2 separate regions of the Homo sapiens genome follow, and region 1 is linked to region 2. The links come from fine-mapping of genetic effects on gene expression. A gene starts in region 2. The other region holds a variant in brackets. All regions are shown on one strand. Distances are between the middles of the regions. Region 1 holds the start of LOC107984507 (a long non-coding RNA gene). Region 2 holds the start of WNT5B (Wnt family member 5B).

The links.
Region 1: its variant is fine-mapped to the expression of WNT5B in aorta (GTEx, PIP above 0.99). The same link has a PIP of 0.9 or more in tibial artery.

What each region holds. Positions count from the first base shown.
Region 1 is chr12:1,522,208-1,534,755 of GRCh38, forward strand. It overlaps LOC107984507 (a long non-coding RNA gene), which reads right to left and starts at 9,985. Exons shown (of 2, transcript NR_160736.1): 1 at 9,899-9,985; 2 at 5,516-9,564. RefSeq lists silencers at 7,888-8,137, 8,228-8,337 and enhancers at 11,351-11,550, 11,701-11,850. The variant A/G (reference allele first, on the strand shown) is at 7,319.
Region 2 is chr12:1,620,037-1,632,330 of GRCh38, forward strand. WNT5B (Wnt family member 5B) reads left to right here and starts at 9,195. Exons shown (of 5, transcript NM_032642.3): 1 at 9,195-9,335; 2 at 11,262-11,398. The coding sequence starts at 11,319. RefSeq lists silencers at 10,113-10,302, 10,333-10,392, 10,347-10,641 and an enhancer at 10,823-10,922.

The DNA of each region.
Region 1 (12,548 bases), 98 kb before region 2:
GCGCACACCTGTGATCATAGCTACTCAGGAGGCTGAGGCAAGAGAATCACTTGAACCCAGGAGGTGGAGGCTGCAGTGAGCAAAGATTGTGCCACTGCACTCCAGCCTGGGCAACAGAGCGAGATTGTGTCTCAAAAAAATAAATTAAAAAAATAAAAATATTGTCAATCTGAGGTTGGTTGACTCTGTGAACGTGGGACCCACAAATAGGGAGGGCCAATTGTTTAAATACATAGAGTGAAAAATATCAGAGAGAAAGGAAGAGTGCCAGGCTAAATGCTTTAAGCTTAACATTTGAATATTTAAAAACTTCAATTGTTAAACAATTGTCCATTACAATGATGCATTTTCACTTATTACTGTTTGTCTCTGGTGATACAATCATTTTTTCCTGAAGCCAAACAAGTGCTTCAGATAAGACATTCTAGCAAAGATCACAGCTCATAGGGTGGAATTCAATAGTTTATAAATGCTTTTTTTTTTTCAAGACAGAGTTTCACTCTTGTTGCCCAGGCTGGAGTGCAGTGGTGCTATCTCAGCTCACCACAACCTCTGCCCCCCAGTTCAAGTGATTCTCCTGCCTCAGCCTCTCGAGTAGCTGGGATTACAGGAAGGCGCCACCACGCCCGGCTAATTTTGTATTTTTAGTAGAGGCAGGGTTTCTCCATGTTGGTCAGGCTGGTCTCGAACTCCTGACCTCAGGTGATCCGCCAGCCTCGGCCTCTCAAAGTGCTGGGATTACAGGTGTGAGCCACTGCGCCCGGCCTATAAATGCTTTTGATAATAATCGTGGGTCAGGAGACAAACCATTACTTCCTTGAGATGTCTGGATTACCTGTGGGTTTCCTTTATCATCCTTGTTAGTACCATTTAGCAAAAGCTAACATGATGGCGGAACCTAGGACCCAGTCTCAGCTCAGGGTGTGCACACCTGGTCCCTGGCAAGACCAAGCAGGAAGAAGCCAGGATGGCGGAAGACCTCAAAGACTCCAGTTCTCGCCAGCCCCTCTGCCGCCCTCCACTGCAATGCGGTCCCAGGGAACTTAAGTGATGTGTTTCCTGGGCCTGGGGCAGGGGGTGCCACGGCTCTTCTGGGCTACCCTGTACCTGTCAGCAAGCCTCTCTCCTCCCGAAAGCTCACTGGACGCTGGGCCTTTGGGATCCCTGGCTGAGTTCAGGATCAGAATGACCTGTGGAGCCTTAGAAGTCACAGACCAGAGGCACAGCCTTGGAAACTGGACTTTAAACATTCTTTCCCAGGAGATTCCGATAAACCAGGGACTCAACCCTCACTGCACTAGGAAGCCCCTCCAGGAGCTGTCTGTGAGTGAACAACTTTGAGACACCCTCTGGTCACCTGGCACAGGTGTGCCTCCCACCCTGGGCAGCCACGTGGGAGGGGTCAGCCTCCCCTGACAGCTGGAGAGGCCACTTTAGTGTCCTTGTGGGAGCTTGTGGCCATCCTTTCTCCCTTTCCTGGCTGGCCTCTCCTTCGGTATCTGCATTTTCTGTCGTCCTAACAGTCTCTGGAGAGGAAGGAAGAAGGGGCTGCTCTCGCTCTGGAATGCCAGCCCCCTGCTGAGTTCCTGCCGCCCTCTCTTCCTTGCTCCCAGCCCCCTCTACCAACAGGAACGGCCAATGCTCCTGGCTTTGCCTCTCTCTGCCTTTGTGCGTGTCTTACTGTGGCTCTCTTATTGTGGAGCACACATCACTCGACCCGAGGGCTCCCTGCTGCACCCTCCAGTCTGCGCTCTCCTCTTCCTAAACTTGTGGGCCCTGTCTACACAGGTTGCTCACTCCGCCATCTCTCTCGCCTTGCCCTCTGGCCTTCGTATTTATCAGTTCACTTTTTGAAACTGCACCTCCAGCCACCCTGACCTCTAACGCTCCTTACATTCCCTGTTTCTTGCCGTCAACACTTGAATGCCCCCTTGACCTTAAAAGTAAGTGTCTTGGAGTCAGATTCACTGTCTTCCTCTCAAACCTCCATCTTTCTCCATTTCCCCTTTGACTCCATCATAGCTTTGTTTACTCTTGGGGAGTATTTAGACCCATGCTTTTTACAGGTGAGGATCCAAGAAGGGGAGTGACCTTCCCCAGGGGAAACCAGCTCCTTAGTAAGAGAGAGGGAAGGAGAAGCTCGGCCACCACCCTTAGTCCTGATGGCCTTGAGCCGCCAGGGGCTCTGGCACCAGACGCATGTGGCCTGGGCATCTGATGTTCATTTCATTTCCATTTGCTTGTGTCCTGGCCCCACTATAAGAACAAAGCTCCTTGAGGGCAGGCACCCTGTCTCCGTTTCCTCTGAAATGTCCCTCAGTATAGAAAGCATTAAAGGGCTTCAGTCAAAGTTGAGATGAGGGAAAAAGGAGGCATATGGGGATGTTAGAGTCTCCAAAGGGAAAATGGTATTTCTTGTCAATCATAATTCCAAAGAGTGCCTTGTTTTTTGGTCAAGCATTTGAGTAGTTCATTAACAGGATCACATTCATTAGTTTTTCCCATTTGCTCGCCATTCTTTTGTTTGTTTGCTTGTTTTTAAGAGATGGGGGGGGGGGGTCTCACTTTGTTGCCCAGGCTGGTCTCGAACTCCTGGCCTCAAGCAATCCTCCCACCTCAGTTTCTCAAAGTGCTGGGATTACAGGCGTGAGCCACCGCACCCGGCCCCCATTTTCTCTTTATGGGACCTTGACGAGTGGTACTGATGAAATGATGAAACTCTTCCCATTGCAATTGGCTAGAGTCTCCAGATTTTGCCAGTTTTTAGTGACACCTTCAACTGCTTCATTCTAGGTATTAGTAAAGCAGTAATTCATTAAAGGGACAATTTAGGATTCTGTCTTCTCTTGGGAGGAGTTCAAGGATAGAGCATCCCATTAGAGTGGACAACAGAAAATGAGGTCACGTCTATTCAATCATAATAATGCAATTATTAATACTGATTGAACATATACTACGTGTAATAAATAGTACTGGATTCCTTTTTTCTGTCTGTTTTAGACAGGGTCTCACTCTATCGCCCAGGCTGCTGGAGTGCAGTGGTGTATAATCACGGCTCGCTGCAGCCTCGACCTCCCGAGCTCAAGTAATCCGCTTGCCTCACCCTCCTGAGCAGCTGGGACTACAGGTGCACACCAAAACACCCACCTAATTTTTGTGTTTTTTGTAGAGTCAGGGTTTTGCCATGTTGCCTAGGTTGTTCTGGAACTCCTGAGGTCAAGTGATCTGCCCGCCTCAGCCTCCCAAAGTGCTGGGATTACAGGCGTGAACCACCATGCCCAGCCAGTACTTGGATTCTTTATGTGTGTTCTTCGACTTCTCACATTGCCATAGATAGGTGATCTTACCACTGCTACCTTTTAGATGAGAAAACCGAGGCTTAGAGAGATGAGTGTCTTGCTCAAGATCACACAGGTGTTGAGTCTGAAGTTCACCTCTGAGGACTGACCTGGCGCCCTGCTCAGCAACCATGCTGTCTTCTCCCTGGAGGGGCACTAACTTCTCTTTTGGGGAGAGGTGGCTAGAGGAGAGCCTTCCAAGTGAGATGAGTAAGGCTGTCATCATTCTGATGAATCTTCATTAAGATAAAACTAGAGGGCCACTGTATTTGTCCGTTTTCACACTGCTGATAAAGACATACCTGAGCCTGGGCAATTTACAAAAGAAAGAGGTTTAATTGGACTTACGCTTCCACATGGCTAGGGAGGCCTCACTGTCATGGCAGAAGGCACAGAGGAGCAAAGTCACATATTTCGTGGTTGGCAGCAGGCAAAAAGAGAGCTTGTGCCGAAAAACTTCCCCTTATAATAACCATCAGATCTCATGGGACTTACTATCAGGAGAACAGCACCGGAAAGACCTGCCCCATGATTTAATTACCTCCCACCGGGTCCCTCCCACAACACGTGCGAATTCAAGACGAAATTTGGTTGGGACACAGCCAAACCATATCAGCCACTCACAGTGGTGCACACCTGTAATCCCAGCACTTTGGGAGGTCGAAGTGAGAGAATCGCTTGAGCTCAGGGGTTTGAGACCAGCCTGGGAAACATAGCAAAACCCTGTCTCTACAAAAAATATGAACATTAGCCAGCTATGGTGGCATGTGCCTGTAGTCCCAGCTACTCAGGAGGCTGAGGTGGGAGGATCGCTTGAGCATGGGAGGTTGAGGCTGCAGTCAGCCATGATCATGCCACGGCACTCCAGCCTGGGTGACAGAGTAAGACTCTGTCTCAAAAAAAAAAAAAAAAAAAAAAAAGAAAAGCAGTTTATAAACTGGTAAGCTCTATGCACATATGAGGTATTAAGAACGGTCTTCTGCTTTTATAAAAATTCCTTTATGCTGCTGACATCCTGGTATGAACTTTTTCCTCTACAGGTCCACTGCAGAGCCAGATTAGAACTCATGATAGCAGCTTCCTTCTTACCAACCCTGCTGCCTTCAGCACTTAGAAATCCCCCGATCCAGCTGTCCCAAATTGTCTTGGCTATTGTGAGTCTGTGGCGGTAATCTATGGATAGTGTCTGGATATTTGGGTCAGATTCTGCCAGTTTTTAAAAAGCCCTCTTTCTTAGCAAAACCGTGACTTCTATGTTACGTCCAGACAACGAGCAGAAACTGAGCACTGAACAACACAGTACCACAGGCAATGGGGTCAAGTGCCTGTGAAATAGCTGTCGGGATAAAAGGTTATTATTAGCTCTGCCTCTCGCTCTTGTTCTGGGCTTTGAAGGCTCATCAGTTCCCCCAAGAAATTTTCTGTGCGTCCTTTTTTTTTTTTTTTTTTTTGAGACGGAGTCTGGCTCTGTCGCCCAGGCTGGAGTGCAGTGGCCCGATCTCGGCTCACTGCAACCTCCGCCTCTCGGGTTCACACCATTTTCCCGCCTCAGCCTCCCGAGTAGCTGGGACTACAGGTGCCCTCCACCACGCCCGGCTAATTTTTTATACTTTTTACTAGAGACGGGGTTTCACCGTGTTAGGCAGGATGGTCTCAATCTCCTGACCTCATGATCCGCCCGCCTCGGCCTCCCAAAGTGCTGGGATCGCAGGCGTGAGCCACCGCGCCAGGCCTTCTGTGCATCTTAAAGAACACCTTTGAAAGGTGCCAGAGAAGCAGACTGGGATGGAGTAGAGGGTTGCCCTGCAACAGGGGTACTTTCTTCCTGCACCCAGAGGCGGCTGGACAGCAGTGTTCTGAAGCTCCTCCCCCTGGCACTGGGGGTGGTGAAACGGAGCAGTCCACCGAAGAGCATGCCTGAGGACCAGCACTCAGCCCCACATGCACCTGGCAGGAAAGCCACTGAGATCCCAGCCACGCAGGAGTCTCAGCCTCCTCTCTGACTAGTTCTGATAGGGTTTTCGTTAGACTTTCTGGCTGGGAAGGGACCTCTGAGTGTGGATGGGGGCCTGCGAGGGCATGACCAGGAGTGGGGAGCAGTGTCCTCAATAAAAAGAGCAGTGATCATTACATATTTGCATAGGGCCAAATATTCTTTCTTTTCTCTTTTTTTCTTCTATTTCCTTCCTTACTTTCTTGTGTCCTTTCTTTTTAATCACAAATGCCAAATTGGAATATGCCTTGTTTGGCAGAGAAGGCAAGAGACCCCACCCAACAGTCACAGACAAAACATGGGTGAGATTTGTCTGCATTCCCATCAGTGCCTGCCTTCAGAGCTGGAGGTAGCTGCCCCAGCAGTCCAGTGACTCAAGCTATGGGGTGCTTACCACTTCCCTTGGGGAATCTGGCCCACGTCTCTGCTGTCTCCTCATTCAAACGTTTTCCCAGCTACTCAGCCACAAGCTCCTTTCCCGGGGGCACTGCAGCTTCCCTCCCTGTGCCACAAGTTTTGACTCATCTTGGACAGAGATGGTGGGGGTAGGGGACTTACAGAGCATTCAGCTGGGGTTGCTGTCGTCTGTCACTTGCTCTCATCCTAGACTGTCAGCTCAGGGCCAAGCAAAGTCATCCCTTGTTGCTTCTTCTAGGCTTCAAATTAGAGGTCGGCCTCTCCACACCTCATTCTTCAGACTGTAAACTTCCTGAAGGTGGGAACTGGTCTCATTCATCTCTGGGTGTTTAGGGCTCAACAAATGAAGCGAATCTTCAGTTTCTCCCATGTTGCATTCTGGAGTAATCAGGGTCTGGGGAACAAGACTTCCCCCCGACCTCCCACGAAGACCCTAACTCCATGGCCGGGCACAGTGGCTCACGCCTGTAATCCCAGCACTTTGGGAGGCCGAGGCAGGTGAATCGCTTGAGGTCAGGAGTTCGAGATCAGCCTGGCCAACATGGTGAAACCCCGTCTCTACTACGGTGGCGCACACCTGTAATCCCAGCTGCTTGGGAGGTTGAGGCAGGAGAATCAGTTGAACCCGGGAGAAGGAGGTTGCAGTGAGACGAGATTGTGCCACCACACTCCGGCCTGGTCAACAAGAGCAAAACTCTGTCTCAAAAAAAAAAAAAAAAAAAAAAGACCCTAACACTAGAACTGATGTTTTATTCTGAGGAAGAGAGAAACTGAGCCTGCTTGAAATTTGGCAAAGCGGATTCAAAGCTTTTTTGCTTGCTTTAGGCCAACTCTCCTCATATCATCTGTCCCCAAGATAAAGCCTTGAACTAGCTTCCCTCCAGCAGCAGGCAGGCTCCCCACAACAATTATAGGCCATGCATTTATGGTTGCTGGACCTGGTCTCATAAACCCCATTCATTCACTCCGAGGTGAGAAAAGTCACAGTGCACCTGAGGTGAGAAAAGTCACGGTGCACCTCCGGCCCAAGCCAGCACAGTTCCAAGGAAACCTTGCCCTCTAATTAGTGGGGTATTTGCTACAACAGCTCTTACCTGTTGTAAAATCCAGAGGACAATAGCTCCTTATTGCCTGCCCAGTGTGGTGGGTTCCTGGTCCCATCCATTCCCTGACCCTCCCTGCTGCCCCTTCCCCCACTGAAAGGGGGAGGCTGTCACCTTGTTTGGTTACTAATTTTAAAAAGGCAAAGCCTTTGATTATTACTATTGTATTTTCCCTCCCCTCACTGTACTGCATTCGAAGGCAATTTCTTTAGCAGGGCGACCTCCTCCTCAGGGAAGAGACTGGGTTTTTCAGAATGTAAAAGCAAAGGGGCTGGAGGGCAGGCCTGGGATCCTACTGGCTGCTCTCGGTTGGTCCCTGTTACCTGGGTCTGGAGCAGGGACCAGCAGCTCCTGCCTCCACTGGGACCTTAGCTCACCCACTTCACCTCCTTGGACACCCTCTTGGGCAGCTCACCCAGAGGTGCTATGAGGTTACCTACAAAAGGACATGGGACTTCCAGAAAAGC[A/G]TTTAAACTTGGATCTGAACTAAGGCCGAGCCCTGGACTCTAGTGACCTTCTCAAGCTATTAGCCCCTGCAGTGACTATGGGTTGGTCGTCAGACTTTCCTGTGCCTCATTTTCTCCATAAAACATCAGGAGAATTATTTAGTCCTATATCCATGACGAAAGTATTGAGAGAACACGTTTGCTCCTTGAAACCTTTCTGCCTCATTTTTCCCAAACCCAGGGATCTTTCTGAGCTGGGCTCTGTAGGGAAGGGCCCAGGACTGCGAGGGGGATGACCTGGGTTTGCGAAGCGGCAAAGTAGTTCCCGGGTCACTCTACTTCCTTGGGGGATTCAAAGGAGGACGCGTAGCAAGAAAGCGGAGGACATAACTCTCTTCCCCTCTCAGAGCCTCGGGCCCCGCAGACGCCGAGGTGGGCGCTCGTGCCAGGATCGCGGGGCGCGGGTACGGGCTCCTTGGGCGCCCCGAGGGGGCTGCTGGCCGGGGTAAGAGCCGCGGTTTCTTCGGAGGATCGGGTCGAGTTCCAGGAGAAGGGGGCAGCAGGCGTGCGGCGCCGGGAGAAGGGGGCCGGGCGGCGGAGACTCCCCGTCCGCACCCCCGCGGCGAGGCCCCCGGGCCGCTCTGCTTAGGGGCCGAGGGAGCCGGGCGGGAGGCAGGTGCGGAGGTCGCGGTCCCAGCGCCTGGGAGGAGCCCTCGGGAGGGTGTCGCGGCCCGGCTGGTGGGCAGGAGCGAGCCGGGGCCGGCGCGGCTGTCGGGGGCGGGGAGGAGGCGCGGGAGGCGGGGCGGAGGCGGCGGCGCCCCCAGGATCCACTCGCCCAGCGCCGGGCCCTGCACTCCGAGCCGCGGCCGCCACCCGCCCCGCAGCCAACTTGGGCCGAAACTTCCCCGGGTCCCGCGCTCCGGAGCAGGGCGCGCAGCCCGGCGAGATCGACGGCGGCCTCCCGAGCCCGCGCCTCGGGCCCAGGGCCTCCCTCCGGATCGGCCGCAGGCTGCGCGCCCCCGACCGTCCCCGCCCGCTGAGTTCGGGGGTCCCCGGCGCGGAGCAGGGAGCCCTCCGGGCGGCAGGAGGGCGCGCAGACTCCGAGCGCCGGGGCTGCCTGGCCGGGCTCCGGTGGACACCTCGGAGGCTGCCCCAGCATCGGGGGGGGGGCCCGAGACGCCTCGGCGGGACCCCGGGAGCCGAGCACGCCCGCCCGCGCCGCCAGCCCCGCGCCCCGGCCGCGGATGAAGAGTCGGAGGCGGCGGCCCGAGCGGCCCGCGCGCTGAGAGGAGCGGGCAGGGTCTGCCCCGGGCCCCGCCGGCCGCCCCCTGCGCCCCCGCGGGCCGCGCCTCGCCCGCCGACCCAGCGCAGCCGGGCGCAGGAAGAGCCGGGCCGGGCCGAGCGGCGCCCGGAGCCCGCGGGCCTGACACGCGGCGGGACATGCAGGTAAGCGCCGGCCCTCGCCCCCGGGGACGGCCCCGCCGCCGCCGCCGCCGCCCCGGCTGCCGAACCTCGCGCGGCTCCTCCGCCTTCCCGGCCCCGCGGCCGCGCTGGGTGTCCGCCGGGTGGGTCTGCGCGCCGCGGGCGTCGGGTCGGGGCGGGCCGGGGTCAGGTCGGGGGAAGGGAGTCGCCCCGGGCCGGGGCGGCGAACAAAGCTGGGGACCGCCGGGCCCTCGCGCGGGCAGGCATAGGAGGCTCCGGGGTCGGCGGCGCAGGCGGGGCGGCCTCTGAGCTTCGCGCTCACTCTCCCGGGTCTGGTCGGGCCCAGCCCCGACCCTCCGCCGAGGTCTGCGCCGGCATCGAGGACCCCATCTGGGTTACTTTACCCGCCGGACGCGGGTGGGAGCCTGCGTTTCTGCCCGGACCGCGCAGGTAGAGCCCGAGCGCCGCTCGGCTTTGTGCTTCTCCGGTCGCTCCGGCGCTCCACGTCCCCGCCGTGGGAGAGGCGGGACGAGACCTCCTCCTTCACTTTCTTGGAGCCTCGGTGGACGCGTAGCCCGCGCTCCAGTCGGAGCCGAACCCCCGGGTATTTGCTGCAGACCGCTGGGAGAGGCAGTTCGGTTTGCGGGGAGCCTGCCCGGCCCTGTTTTACAGGGAGGGAAACTGAGGTGGCCCCGGCCCTGCGTTGGTTACTCAGCTGAAGGGGTGTGTGTGTGTCCGGTGTCCCCTCCACTTCACCCGGGCCCTTCTTCACTGCTTTTGCCACCTGGCCACGTTGGCAACAGCTTCCAGTTGCTACTCCCCTGGGCAGAGGTTCAGCCTGGTACCTGGAGGAGAAAAACTAGGGATCGTGGAATCAACCCCCCAGACTGCTCCAGGGGCCCCGGAATGTGCCCAGTCACCAGAGCTGCGATGGGACGTCTGTGCCCGTGCCGTCAGTGTGGAGCCGAAAACCCTGGCTCGGCAGGGCAGGGGCAGCCGCTAGCCAGCCACCAGCACTCGTCCAGGCACACGGGGGAAGCCTAGGGAGCCCCCTCCTGTGGCTGGCCCCTAAGGCAACGGAGAGCCCAGGCAGCAGCGGGCACGCCCTCAGAAGGCCTAAGGACCCTTTCCTGCACCCAGCCTCTCCTGCCATCCGATTAACCGGCAGAATTCACTTACGCAAAGGCAAGACTCCCCATCTCAGGCACAGACGAGCGGATGCCAGACCTGGAGCTTGCAGCCGCACCCCTGCCTAGGCTCACACACACAGGTCCTGGCAAACACACCGACCTATTAGAGGTGGAAGACTGAGGGGTGGTTTTCCTCCATCTCAAAATAGTGTCTGTTCTCGCTTTGACACACAAGATTCGTGGTTATAAATAGCAAGAAGGAGGAGGTGTGTCTCCTTGGAAGGATGGCAGTGCTGAAAGAGACCTCTTAGGCACCCTTGTGAGAGGAGTGATGGAGCTGGCGTCTTCATGGTGATGACAAGTCCAGCAGTCCAAGGGAAGGGTCACAATTAAAACCAGGGCTTTTTACTAACAGATGCAGGTGGCGCGGACAACAGGGCAGGACGTGAAGGGAGTAAAGGAACCTAAAGTGACAATGGATGGGTCAATACCCAAAGGCAGTCAGGAGAGACATCTCCCCTTCCCTTTCTTTCTCTTCTTAAAGACAGTCAGGCCAAGGGCGTGTGACACTCTGTGGGATCTGCCTGCCAGGGGAGCAGGAGCCAGGCTCGGAGGAGCTGGCTGGTCTTTTTCCACCCATGGATTTCATACTTTCCCAGGCTCTGATATCTTATGTATTTGAATATGAATAGGTGATTGAGCGTGTGTGTCTGTGTGTTTCTCCAAGGTATCTGAAACCGGTCCCCTCTTTAGTTCATTTGGTGATTGTAATATCACCAGGGGTTTCTTATTGACTTGAAACTACCCTTTTCTAAAATTTTTTCTGTCCAAAAAGCATAAGTTAAAGGGATATTGCCAAAATTGCTGGGAGCCATATGCTGCGAAAAGAAAAAATCTGGAATTCTTCTTCCCTTGTGTATTTCACCCTCTGACTCTAGGGGCAGCTGAAAGATTTTTTGTTTGCTCTTCTTCAAGGTCAAGAAAGGCAGAGGACTAGGCTGGTCTGTTCTAATTTTTAATTCTAGGATGGTTCTGCTGCTTTCTGGATTGCCGCAGCCTGGCTTCTCTAGCATGGAGGGAAGTTTTTACGTGTGGTGATAGTCCTTGTCTTCTCTGAAATAGAAACCAGTCAGTCCAAAAAAGCTCTCGTGTCAGCGAGAGCTTTTTCTCTCTGGCTCCTTTTCAAACCGCCTGCCATTTATCTCCTTCATCTTCTAACCAGGTCTTCAGAGCCCATCTTTGCTCCAGCGCTAGTCCTGGATGCAGTCCTCAGAGTGTGTGGTCGTGGTGGTAGTTACTGGTTGTTGGGTAACTCCATCAGGTCTCTGAAGACACACAACAGCAGTAGATGTAAAAGCCCTCTGGGCAATGAGAGCATGTGGGAGCTCCACTTACGGGCAGCCTTGGCTGGTTTCTGTTGAGCGTCTTCACCGTTATCTACGAGTCCAGAAACATCCAGCAGAGGGATTGTGCATCGATATTGCCATCAAGATGAAAAGACATGCTCATTTTAAATCTGAGCCACCCTTTAAAGTAAAACTAACCTTCTGTCCATCTCTGGGGCGCAGCCTGTGTGCTCCCCCAAGCAGCATGCTGGAGGAACCCTGAAAACGGATCCGCTGTTTGGTACAGTTCTGGCTGGACTGTTCCCTTCAGCGAGAAATGCCCCAACTCTGGAGAGCAGGTGACTGCACAGCCCCTACCAGGCCCTCTCCACCCCTGGCCCGGCTCTGTTTACCTGGCTAAATTTAAACCTCCGCCCCCTCCATCCCAGTTTGAGCCACTGGCTTGCGGTCTCGCCACTGGGCTGGCTGCTGCGGCAGCATTTCCTGACTTCTTCGCCCCTGTGGTTGCAGTGTGGTCTCTTTGTGCTGCATGAGTCCTCTTCTAGGCTTTCTAAAGTTGGTCTCTCTCCCCGCTGCTTCTCCACCCATGTGGCTTTCTTCCCATCTCTTTCCTCCTGGGTGAGTTGGAACCTGGTTCGGTACTGGGGGAAGATGCTCTCCCCTAACCCTTCCAGATACTGTGCACGGAGATCACAGGAAGCCTAGACTCAAGCTGTCATTTAAGGTCCTCAGGGGGCTGTGCTGACTGTAATCATTACCCAGCCTGGCTGCCGGGCTGTCGGATCCCCTTTGAGTAAGCACGTAGGGTGCTGGCAGCAGTGCAGCCCTTAAAGGGACAGGGGCATTCTCTAAGGTCTTTGGCACCCCAAACCTCCAGCTCCCCTAAGAAACCAACCCACCTGGATGTCCTGTCCTTTGCATCACTGTCTTTTCTTGAGGTTTTGCTGGGGAGGGTGTTTGAGTGGGTTGGGGTGCACACGGTAGCTTCTCTCTGGATCTCAGTAATATTTTCTTTTCTTTCCTTTTTTTTTTTTTTTTTTTTTTTTTTAACAGGGTCTTTCTCTGCTGCTCAGGCTAGAGTGCAGTGGTATGATAATGGCTCACTGCAGCCTCGACCTCCTGGGCTCAAGTGATCCTCTCACCTCAGTCTCCCCAGTGGCTGGGATTGTAGGAGCCGTGCACCACCATGCCTGGCTAATTTTGTTCTTTTTTAATTTTTTGTATAAATTGGGTTTCACTATGTTGCCCAGGCTGGTCTTGAATTCCTGGGCTTAAGTGATTCTCCTGCCTCAGCCTCCCAAAGTGCTGGGATTATAGACATGAGCCACCTTGCCCAGCCTTGCTTGTCTTTTC
Region 2 (12,294 bases):
TTTTTATTTTTAAATATTTTTGTTGTCTAATATAATGCAGAAAATTGCATACAGCATAATACATGCACAACTTAATAAACTGCTGTAGTGTGAACTGCCACATATCCATCACCAGGTTGGAAAATAGAACATTGCTGGTATCCCAGGAACTTCCTCGAGCCCCTTCCTCATCACAGCCCCCTCCCTTGGAAACCACTCCCTGATGTCATCATTTCCTTGCTTGCTTTTCTTTATGGCTTAACCACCAATGTGTGGGTCCCCAAACAAGATAGTTTTGCTATGAATGGAACCATAGTTCATATACTTTCTTGTGACTTGCTTCTTCTCAATATTATGTTCAGAAGATCCATGCATGTGGTTGCATGTAACTTGTAGTTTGTTTTCCTTCCTGCATAATAATTCTTTGTTGTAATATATCACAGTTAATTGTTTTGTCCATTCTATTGTTGATGGATATTGTTGCTTCTGGTCTGAGGCTATCAAGAGTGCTGCTATTCTTTTGTTGTTGTTTTTTTTTTTTGACATGGAGTCTCAGTTTGTCACACAGGCTGGAGTGCAATGGCGCGACCTTGGCTTACTGCAACCTCCGCCTCTTGGGTTCAAGTGATTCTCCTGCCTCAGGCTCCCAAGTAGCTGGGACTACAGGCACCCGCCACCACACCCAGCAAATTTTTTTTTTTTTTTTTTAGACGGAGTCTCGCTCTGTGGCCAGGCTGGGGTGCAATGGCACGACCTTGGCTCACTGCAACCTCCACCTCCCGGGTTCAAGCGATTCTCCTGCCTCAGCCTCCCAAGTAGCTGGGACTACAGGCATGCGCCACCACCCCTGGCTAATTTTTCTATTATTGGTAGAGACAGGTTTCACCATGTTGGCCAGGATAGTCTTGATCTCTTGACCTCGTAATCTGCCCGCCTCAGCCTCCCAAAGTGCTGGCATTACAGGTGTGAGCCACCGCGCCCCACCCTGTTATTTTGAAAGTTAGAGAACTGCCATGGGGAAATTCATTTATCCTTTCAAGAGATAAGAATGGGACATAAGATATTGCAATTTGTTAGAGAAAAAGAGGTCAATTAGCAGGCTCTTGTAGTAGCTCATAGTATGACAATAGGAATGTTGAGTAGGGAATATATTCAAAAAACACTATAGAGATACAATCAAGAGACCTTGGCAATTGATTTGACGTGGAAGGCAAAGAAGAGGGAGGAGTCACAAAGGATACCAAGATTTCAGGCCTGGATACAGGAAGAGAATTGGAAGACAGAGAACACGCATGATTGATATGAAGGTGTGTAATCAATCAGCATTTTAACTTCTATATTTGGCTCTCTAGGAAGATTCACTCAACCCACATTTTATGATCAAAAGGACAGTATCCAGGGTGACTGGTCCCCTATGTCTTTGACCCCATTCCTGCAGTGTTGCCCCCAGAAACTGGAAGCATGTCATGATGGGAGTTTTCCTGGGTAATTGATGCTGAATTATCAATGGGAATACCAAATCAGATTTTTTAAAAAGTTAATTTAACATTTATTATTTTTAGAGACCTCTGTCATCCAGGCTGGAGTGCAGTGGTACAATCATAGCTCACTGCAGCCTTGACCTCCTGTGATCCTCCCGCTTCAGCCTCCTAAGTAGCTAGGATTACAGACATGTGCCACCATATCCAGCTATTTTTTTTTTTTTTTTTGGTAGAGATGAGGCCTCACTATGTCGGCCAGGCTGGTCTCAAACTCCTGGCCTCGAGTGATCCTCCCATCCCGGCCTCCCAAAGTGCTGGGATTACAGATGTGAGCCACCATGCCTGGCCCCATATTAGATTTTGGAGGGACTACATAAATTTCACGAACAAGCAATTCTGAAAACAGTGGAAATTATTGAAGTCCTCCTTCATTGCACTATCTCTCCTCTTCTTCGAAAAGCACCTTGAAATTTTCTCTTTGACCAAACCACATCTTCATGTGAAATCCTTTCTGCTGTTTTCCTCCTGTTAAAAGCCCTCATATTCTTCAAGGCCCTACTCAAATCCCACATCCTGAGTACAGCTGCTCCCTTAGGCTCTTCTGACACTTCTTTTTTTTTTTTTTTTTTTTTGAGACGGAGTCTCGCTCTGTCGCCCAGGCTGGAGTGCAGTGGCGTGATCTCGGCTCACTGCAAGCTCCGCTTCCCGGGTTCACGCCATTCTCCTGCTTCAGCCTCCTGAGTCGCTGGGACTACAGGCGCCCGCCACCACGCCCGGCTAATTTTTTGTATTTTTAGTAGATGACACTTCTTATAGTGTACTTTTCTGGGCAGGTTTTCTGTTTTCCCCAGCTAGACCAATGCACCTTGGGGCACTCCCCAAGGTCTTACACATTTTTACATTATCTTATTAAGCAGTGCCAGCCTTTACTCTTAGAAGCTGAATGTTACTTATGTCTTTGAGGAAAAGACAGAGAGTTATGTCTGGGACCAGGAATCTCCAAAATCTCAATTAGCAGTGGATTCTCAGATAAGGGGAGGTACAGTCAAGCAGCTTCCTCACAGCAAATGGACCAAGTTGTATGGAAGTCGAAGGGACTCTCCTTGTCTTCATGAGAGGCTGGCCTTCGTGGCCTGCTTCCTCTTTCCCTGAGAGCCAGAGGAGGGCTTTTCTTTTCTTTCAGTCAACAAATATTTTTCTAGCAACTCCCACATACCCCTGTGTACTATCCTATCCACTGGGGAGAAAATGGTAAATAAGACCGTTTCCAGAGCATATGAGGGACAGAAACAAAAGCACAACAGATGAGCATGCCACACTATTCCATGTCACATTAAATGCTGTGGCTAAAACATGTGAGAAGCTAGAAATAGAATGATGCTGCTGGGGGCCTTCTTTGGCAGAGATGGTTAGAGAAGGCCTCTTGGAAGGTGTGGCCTCAATGACAAAGGAGCTTGCTCTGCACAGAGAGAGGAGAAACCATTCCCAGAAGTCGGCAAGGCACAGCGGGGAGAAACAGGATGGGTTTGGGTAAGGAGGTATCAGGAGTTTGGGGTTCTAAAGCACAGCATGAAATCCTAAAGAGGATGGAAAGGTTGGCGGGGCCAGATTCTGGAAGGCGTCATGTAATGGGGTGAGGAGTTATGACTCATCCTTTAGGAGATAGGAAACCTTTGAAGGGTTTTTTGTTGTTTTTTTTTTTTTTTTTTTTTTTTTTGAGACGGAGTCTCGCTCTTTAGCCCAGGCCGGACTGCAGTGGCACAGTCTCGGCTCACTACAAGCTCCGTCTCCCAGGTTCACACCATTCTCCTGCCTCAGCCTCCCGAGTAGCTGGGACTACAGGCGCCCACCACCACACCCAGCTAATTTTTTGTATTTTTAGTAGAGATGAGGTTTCACCGTGTTAGCCAGGATGGTCTCCATCTCCTGACCTCGTGATCCGCCCGCCTCGGCCTCCCAAAGTGCTGGGATTACAGGCTTGAGCCACCGCGCCCGGCCTCTTTGAAGGGTTTTAAGCAAAGAAGTCACATGGTCAAATCTAAGCTTTGAACAGAGCTCCTCGATCGCTATATCTACTGAAAGGCAAGACAGTTTTGTGCTATCGAAGTAAGAGCCTTTCTTGCTGAGGACATAGTTTCTTGGTGAGTTTCACTGTTAAGGCCAATCTAAAATGTCCCTCCACGTTCTCTCCAAACCTTATGTTTCTTCACGTGCACTCTGTACCTCACCTCTGCATCTTCCATGAGCCCCTCACACCAAACCAGGATCCACCCTTCCAGACCCATAGCTCTTGACCTGGTTTGTCTTTTCCATCCCAAAGTAAAACTAAGTACCAACTCTTTAAAACTATTATGTTTTAATTCCTCCAGCTTTAAGCAGCCTGGCCTGTTCTCAACCCACATATCATTTTGGCTAGGGGAGAAGTCTAGTTCTTTCCGCCCACAAGGCTGTGTGTGTATCTAAGTGTGTGTATTAATACTAGTAACTTTGCATGTTTTGTAAACCTTGCTTTTTGTGATATCTCCTGCATATCAGAATGTTGTTTTCTGACTTTCACACTATTCGCAGCCGTAGTAACAGGGCAATGGTGCAACGAAGAAAAGAAAGAGGCTGGGTACCGCGGCTCACGCCTGTAATCCCAGCACTTTGGGAGGCCGAGGCAGGTGGATCACCTGAGGTCAGGAGTTCAAGACCAGCCTGGCCAACATGATGAAACCCATCTCTACTAAAAATGCAAAAATTAGCCGGTCGTGGTGGCAGGCACCTGTAATCCCAGCTACTCGGGAGGCTGAGGCACAAGCATCACTTGAATCGGGAGGCGGAGGTTGCAGTGAGCTGAGATCATGCCACTTGCCTAGGCAACAAAGTGAGACTCTGTCTCAAAAAAAAAAAAAAAAAAAAAAAAGAGAAAGCAGAGAAGGTGTTATGCTCTAGTGACAGGGAGGACCTGTATTTGGGGAAGAGTAGAAAGATCTGGATTCCAAGCCAGGGTCAACCATTCAATTGCTGTATGAACAAGTACTTAATTTTAGTTTCCCTGTTTTCAAAGTGAGAATAATAATGGCATATGCCACAAATGTTGGCAGAGATTAAATGAGAAAAATAGATGTGAAACATTTAGTGCAGTGCACTAAGAGGTGCTCAATAAATGTTGATTAATACTAGCTATTGTCACTGGTTATCAATCAAAAGACATTTGTTACTGCTGAGTAAAACCATACTGGGCGCAAAGGGGCTCGCAGAGAAAGTAGAAAAGGTAAGTTTGAACCTTTAGGAAGCATTTGATCTACTAGAGAAGTAAGAAGTATATACTTCACCTGAGAAACAGCCCAAGGCAGCATAAGTGGGGTAGGGAGGTGCAGACCAGATACATGGATTCATAAGGGCCGAAGAGGTTGAGACCTCTTCGGTCTCAACCCATGAGAATGAGATTCTCATGGGGTGGGGTTAATCAAGCACAGTTTTATGGAGGGAGTGAATCTTGAGCCTGGATGTGAAAGTAGTTTAATATCTGGATTGCTGCAGAGCAGAGGAGAATGCTTCCTTGGGAAGAGGATCAGAATGAGGTCTTGGGGGAAAAGTGGGGTTTGTTCTAGGAGTAGAAGGACATTGGAAAAGGAGACTTCATGTTGGGAAATTCAGGAAAACAATGAGAGGTAAGATGAGGCCACATTGGAAATAAAGAACTGGGAACCACTATACGTTTTCAAATAGGGGAATATTATGATGTAAAATTAGTATTTTAGGGAAAACTGGTATTGTGTCTATGTGCACTTGTGAGTGAGACCACGAAGAACTACTCTGGTGTTCAGATGCCAGAAGGGTGAGTACTCACCTGGAAATTGGGAAGGAAATGAGTGAACCTGATGTACATTTTAGGAGGTATTTGTCTATTGTGCTGAGGTCCATAAACAGTCTTTCTCTACAGTACGAGAAATGAGTGGCCAAAGGGAGAGAAGCCACAGGACTCCAGCTAGCAAGGCCTGCTCCTCCTCCACCTGCCCCTCCCCTGTCCCATGGAAATCATCCAGTCTGAGGCCCCTCCTTCAACAGCAATGCAGCCAGGAGTTCACAAAGGGAAGCATTTCCTTTCCAAAGACTGCTAAGATGGTTTACCCTGTTATGCCAGGAATGTTAACAAAATTGCAAATGTACTTTTATTCTTTTGTTTTTTCTCTTTTTTTTGAGACGGAGTCTCACTTTGTCACACAGGCTGGAGTGCAGTGGTGCAATCTCGGCTCACTGCAAGCTCCACTTCCCAGGTTCAAGCGATTCTCCTGCCTCAGCCTCCCAAGTATCTGGAATTACAGGCACCCATCACCACGCCCAGCTAATTTTTGTATTTTTAGTAGAGATAGGTGTTGCCATGTTGGCCAGGCTGGTCTCAAACTCCTGACCTCAAGTGATCCACCTGCCTCAGCCTCCCGAAGCGCTAGGATTACAGGCATGAGCCACCGCACCCTGCCTGTTTTTTTTCTCTCTCTTTTTTTTTTTTTTTTTGAGGCAGGGTCTCAATCTGTCACCCACGCTGAAGTGCAATAGCACAATCACGACTCACTACAGCCTTGAACTCCTGGGCTCAAGCGATCCTCTGGCCTCAGCCTCCCAGGCACCACCATGCTCGGCTAACTTTAGATTTTTTTGTAGAGACAGGGTCTCACTGTGTTGCCTAGGCTGGTCTTGAACTCCTGGGCTCAAGCAAGCCTCCCACCTCAGCCTCTCAAAGTGCTGGGATTATAGGTGTGAGCTACTGCACCTGGCCACAAGTGTATTTTTTTTTTTTTGAGACAGAGTTTCACTCTTGTTGCCCAGGCTGGAGTGCAATGGCGCAGTCTCAGCTCACTGCAACCTCCACCTCCCGAGTTCAAGCAATTCTCCTGCCTCAGCCTCCCGAGTAGCTGGGATTACAGGTATGTGCCACCGTGCCTGGCTAATTTTGTATTTTTAGTAGAGACAGGGTTTCTCCATGTTGATCAGGCTGGTCTCGAACTCCTGACCTCGGGTAATCCACCTGCCTCGGCCTCGCAAAGTGCTGGGATTACAGGCGTGAGCCACTACTCCAGGCCAAGTGTATTTTTTTTTTTTTCAGACGGAGTCTCACTCTATCGCCCAGGCTGGAGTGCAGTGGCACGATCTTGACCCACTGCACGCTCCGCCTCCCAGGTTCACGCCATTCTCCTGCCTCAGCCTCCTGAGTAGCTGGGACTACAGGCGCCCGCCACCACACTGGGCTAATTTTTTTGTATTTTCAGTAGAGACGGGGTTTCACCGTGTTAGCCAGGATGGTCTCGATCTCCTGACCTCATGATCTGCCCGCCTCGGCCTCCCAAAGTGCTGGGGTTACAGTTGTGAGCCACTGCGCCCGGCCGCCAAATGTATTTTTAAATTACACATTCTATAGCTCCCCACTGGGTGACCAAGTAAGAGTGCTTTTCTTTTCTTTCAGTCAACAAATATTTTTCTAGCAACTCCCACATACCCCTGTGTACTATCCTATCCACTGGGGAGAAAAATGGTAAATAAGACCGTTTCCAGAGCATATGAGGGAAAGAAACAAAACCACAACAGATGAGCACGCCACACTATTCCATGGCACATTAAATGCTGCGGCTAAAACATGCAAGAAGCTAGAAGTAGAATAATGGCGATGGGGGCCTTCTCTGGGAGGGATGGTCAGGGAAGGCATCTTGGAAGGTGTGGCCTCAGTGACAAAGGAGGCCTGCTCAGCACCCTTGAAGAGGTCCCCACCTAGGCTCGTGGCTATTTCTGGACAGGTTTCTGGATGTGACGGTGCCTGTCTGAGGAGAGGGGCAGATGTGGGAGGTGGCTCCATTTCCTGCAGGAGTCTTGAGATGCTTGAGTCCCTGGGTGCTGGGGAAGTCAGTTCTAGATATCAGTGGGTTTGTGTGAATGGCTAATGACCTGAAATCAACCCCTCATCCTGTGGGGCAGAGATGTTGTTTCAGGCACTGCTCTGAAGTATGGTGGAAAGCACAGAGTTGCTTGGGGTCTCAGCTTTACCTGTCCCGGTCTCTCTTTTTGGTCTCTTAACTCTAGGCTGGATGGACATGGCCCCTTAAGGAAATGAAAGTGAGTGACTGAGTCCTAGCAGAAAAAGGAGGAGATCTTGGAGTTCCTGTCTTCCAACACGCACCTCTTTGGTTGTGATGGTGAAGTGGGACAGTGCCATCTCAGCAGGGACCTTGGATGTGCTCTAGAGGGGGTCTTGGAGGTGTAGCATCGTTACATCCCCTCCCACCATCCTGCCTACACAGTGGTTTTGGGGGCACAGATATTTCAGAGAGTAGTCTTCCCAAGAACCCTACATCAAGTATGCTACCACCCCTTCCCATTCTTGATTCTGGTCCCCTCTTTATTTTCCTCATAGTATTCACTGGACCTAACTTATGATACATTTGTTTGTTCACTGCCATGTCTCTGGCACTTAGAGCAGTAACTGGCACATATTAGGCACCCAGGGTGTAATTCATTTGATTAATGAATGTATTGAATGGCTGCATGGATGAATGAAGAGGAGGAACAGAGCAGATGTCTGACCAGCTCATTCTGGCTTCTGGAAGGATCCTGATTGGGAATTTTGCATCTTTCCCTCCCCACAGCCTCCTAGTCACTACTACTAAAGAATAGAGACCCTGACTCCCACTTTTTTTTTTTTTTGAGATGGAGTCTTGCTCTGTCACCCGGCTGGAGTGCAGTTGTGCTATCTTGGCTCACTGCAACCTCCACCTCCCAGGTTCAAGCGATTCTCCTGCCTCAGCCTCCCAAGTAGCTGCGACTGCAGGCATGTGCCACCACATCTGGCTAATTTTTATACTTTTTTATTACAGGTGAGCTTTCACCATGTTGGCCGGGCTGGTCTCGAACTCCTGACCTCAGGTGATCTGCCCACCTTGGCCCCCCGAAGAGCCCCGCATTCTTAACTACTGTGTTTGGTATGTTTGAATTGACACTTGCCTCTTAGGAAGGGGAATCTTTTTAGACCCTGGGGAAATCTGTAGTTATTGCAAAGGCCTTTTCCTGCCTGTTGGGCATTTACCAGATCTTTCTTCCTACACAAGGAGAGCCTCCCCTGGTTGAATCCTGCTATAAATCTCACTAGTGACCCACAAACAGGGGTCCCAATGTGACCTGCTCATTAACACAAAACCGTCAGCCCCCATACAGCTTCCTGCCTTCCCAGTCGGGTTGAGGCAAGAAATTTCCATTCTGCCCATGCTGATGAAACCAGTCGCCAGCATTTACCTTTCTAAGGGGTCCTTTCTCCTCCCACCCCAGCCCACCCCAGCACAAGAATGTAAGAGAGGGCAAACAGCTGCCTGGCTTCAGTTCTATGGCCACTCAAGAATTGGCTCGCATCTGTCTGCCAGGACAGAGAGCGTCCTGAGGGGGCTGGTGTGTGTGTTGTGTGTGTGTGTGTGCACGCGCGCGTGCATATGTGTGTATGGGGGAGTTCAGTTTCAGGTACCACACATCTGGAAGTCAGAGAAAGAAGCCACTGCACATGTTAGAGCCATTTTGGGGGGCAATTTTTAAAAAAAAAAACATTTTTAATGGGCTGAGAGCCGCCTCGTGGAAAGCCCGGGGCGGGGGATGGAGTAGAAACAGCTGCGGGAGTGATTCTTGTCTCCATATATGTTTATAAGGCACTGAGGGCGGGATTAGCAGCTCCTGGGAAGTCTGGCTCTAGTTACCGTGTCAGCCTGTCCTGGGGGCAGTCACAGCCACAGTGACCATTAGCAGGCACCCAGGCCTGTCTTTGGCTCGGAAACGGTGGCCCCCAATGTAGCCTAGTTTGAACCTAGGAACTGCAGGACCAGAGAGATTCCACTGGAGCCTGATGGACGGGTGACAGAGGTGAGAGGCACTGGTGTGAGGGACAAGTGTCACAGGCGGGGAGGAAGAACTCCGCTATCTGGTGGTGGAAATGTGTGAGGATCAAAGTCCCCAGGGAGAGTAGGTGTTGCGGGCGGCAGGGTGGTGGGCTGGGCACGGGCTGGGCATAGGCTGGGCAGGAGGCTTCGGGGCCGCGGGGAGGAGGCTGGAGAAGCAGGAGGGCACGGGCGGCCCTAGCTCTGCAACCCCGGGAAGGACTGGTAGGTGGAGTTAAGGATATTTGGACAAGGAAACGCTTTGAAGCTTTTCTCTCGTCCTCCCTACTCGGGACCTGGTCGCCTCCCCTCCATAAAACCATTAGCTCCTGGTGCCAGCCCTATCTCTGCTCCATCTCTCGTGGTTCCAGCCGGTGCATTCACAGACCTTCTGCCCCGGGGGACGAGGAGGATTTATGGGGGGAGAGGAGAGGGGGAGGGGCATCCTCCAGAGGAGGGGGGGTCTGAGGGGAGTCGGGCGTGGAAGCTGTTAGTCCCGGGCTGGGGGCCGGCTCACTTCCGAGCTGGCTCTGCATGACAAAGGGGAAGGAGCAAGTGTCTTCTTTGATCTGCCCCCTGCCGGCCCCACACACCTGCCTGTTGGTGCCCCCGCCCCAGCCGAGGCTTCGAGAAGGAAAATCAAAAGGGGGCTTGGGGAAGGGCTGTGTCCCAGCTCTCCTGGACCCTGCTCGGGCCACTGTCCTCTCCTGGCGGCCCCAGGACAAAAATACTTCCCGGGCTGATGACCCGAAGCACCCGCCGCCCCCTCCCGGGGAGCCTGGGGACGCCGACGCGCGAGAGTGGCGCAGTGAGCCGGGGCGCGCGGGGCTGCGCTCGTCAGGTCCGGGGCCCCGGGGAGGCCGCTGGGGGCGCGGGTCACGCCCAGACGGGGGCCCCGGAGGACCGCGGGGGAGCCGCAGGGGCCGTGTGTCCCGAGGCGCAGGCTCGCTCTAGCAGCACTGACCTGCTGCGGGTCCCAGGGCCTGGGGACAGGGGCTCTCGGGGGCGGATAGAGGAACAGGCGTGGGTTACAGCAGGCAGGAGGCCAAGAGGCGGGAGGCCCGGGAGCCAGCAGGGAAGGGCTGTGGCATCTGGAAGATGCGTCCTCAGCTCAGGCATTTGATGCCAGAGCTGCCGCCTGGCGTCGGCAGTGTCCCCGGTGCAGCTGCTGGGCAAGGTACTCGGTGCCGCCCTCGAGGACCACGGTGCCGGGAGGGGCAGGGGCCGCCTAGGGAGGCACCACCTCAGCCGCCAGAGCTTTCCGGGCGGGCGGTTCGCGGCGTGGCTTGTACATTTCTCAGAGAAGCTGCCTTGAGAAAGTGAAAAGTCCTTGATCTGTACGCAGGGGTTGGGACTTAGGAAACCCGCTGAGGGTGAGAAGGGCGCAGATGGAGAGGGGAGACTCCTCCCTGGGTGCAGGTAAATCCAATTCACCAAAATGTTTTAATCCTACAAAGGAGAGCCTGAGGGTCAGAGAAATAAGTCTCTGGGCTGGAATGAGAGGTAGGCACGTGGGGGAGTGGATAGGATGGGCCCCATTTCTTTGGATGTTCTGCAGCAAGGACAGGTATGCTTTACAACAGCCGAAGTGGCCTCCCGGCTGCCGAACGGAGGAACGCCGCAAGCTCCGCTCTTGAAATTACTTGTTTTCATTTCTCTTTGTGGTTTCTCAGCTCATTATTTCTTTGGAAATTAGGTCCTGTGCAGGGTTCCCACAGTTTGGGGTAAGAGACAGAAGTCCTAGGGTGGGAAGATGAGCAGTGGGAGGCGGAGGCTGGAAAGAGGCCGAGCTTCTTTGTGGGGAACACGCAGCACGTAAGCATCAGTGCAACTTTCTCCGCCTCACCCCGGCTCCTGGTCTGCCCTTATCCGCTGAGTTTCCACACTGACTCTCCATTTCTGTTTTCTCCAGGGAACCCTACTCTGGAAACTGTCAGTCCCAGGGCACTGGGGAGGGCTGAGGCCGACCATGCCCAGCCTGCTGCTGCTGTTCACGGCTGCTCTGCTGTCCAGCTGGGCTCAGCTTCTGACAGACGCCAACTCCTGGTGGTGAGTAAGAGGGGCTGAGGTCCTGCCTGCACAGCCGGAGGCCTCCTTCAGCGACTGAGATGAGGAGGAAGGGCACCGTGTGTCACGGTAGTACCTTGATTCCTGGGAGTACTAAGGGCCTCTTTTATCCCAGGAAAACTAAGAACGCTCTGTGTCTCTCTCAACCCTTATCTTTGTAAGGGTTCCCTGAGGATAAAGGTTCCGTTCATTTGATTTTTTTCTCTAATCCTGTCCACATTCCTTTTCCTTGGACCTTCCCTCATGCCCATGAATTGTTAGAAATTGCTCTTGGGTCAACAAGAATATCAATACTTGGTAGTTTTTTGTTCCTTTGTTTTGTGTGTTTTGCTGGTAGGATATAGAATTCCTCTTTTATAAGTCTGAAGGCCAGATGAGGGGTTCACAGCACCATGGGTGGCTGGCTTTCTTCTTATGTTTTAAGGGCTGTTGTCATTGCCAAGTTGACAGGGAAATGGCAGGCGATCACCACCTATTTTGCATGGTCTCTGCCACTAGCATTTTTACTCAGATAGCAAATCTGCAGCCTTCTCATCTAACACTCTATATGGCTGGTAGATGATGAGCAAAAGGGAGAGCCTCTGAACTGGTGGAGAGTGGATGAGGGGAAGCTCAAAGTGAGACATGGCAGTGAAAACAAGTAGACTAGATCGTGATGTATGTAAAGTGATTGGATTTTAAAGGCCCAAAGGGAGTACCACGCAAAGGATTGATTGCTTTCCATGGCTTATCATGTACTTGGGCTGCACTGAACTAGTCACTCCTACTCATTGAATGAGGCCTGTGCTCTCCTGTTGAGGTTTGGCTCTTTTTGCCCTCTATTAAAATGAAGAGCTGCTCCCCACCCCTCGTCTTCTTATCTGCCTGACCCCCATTCT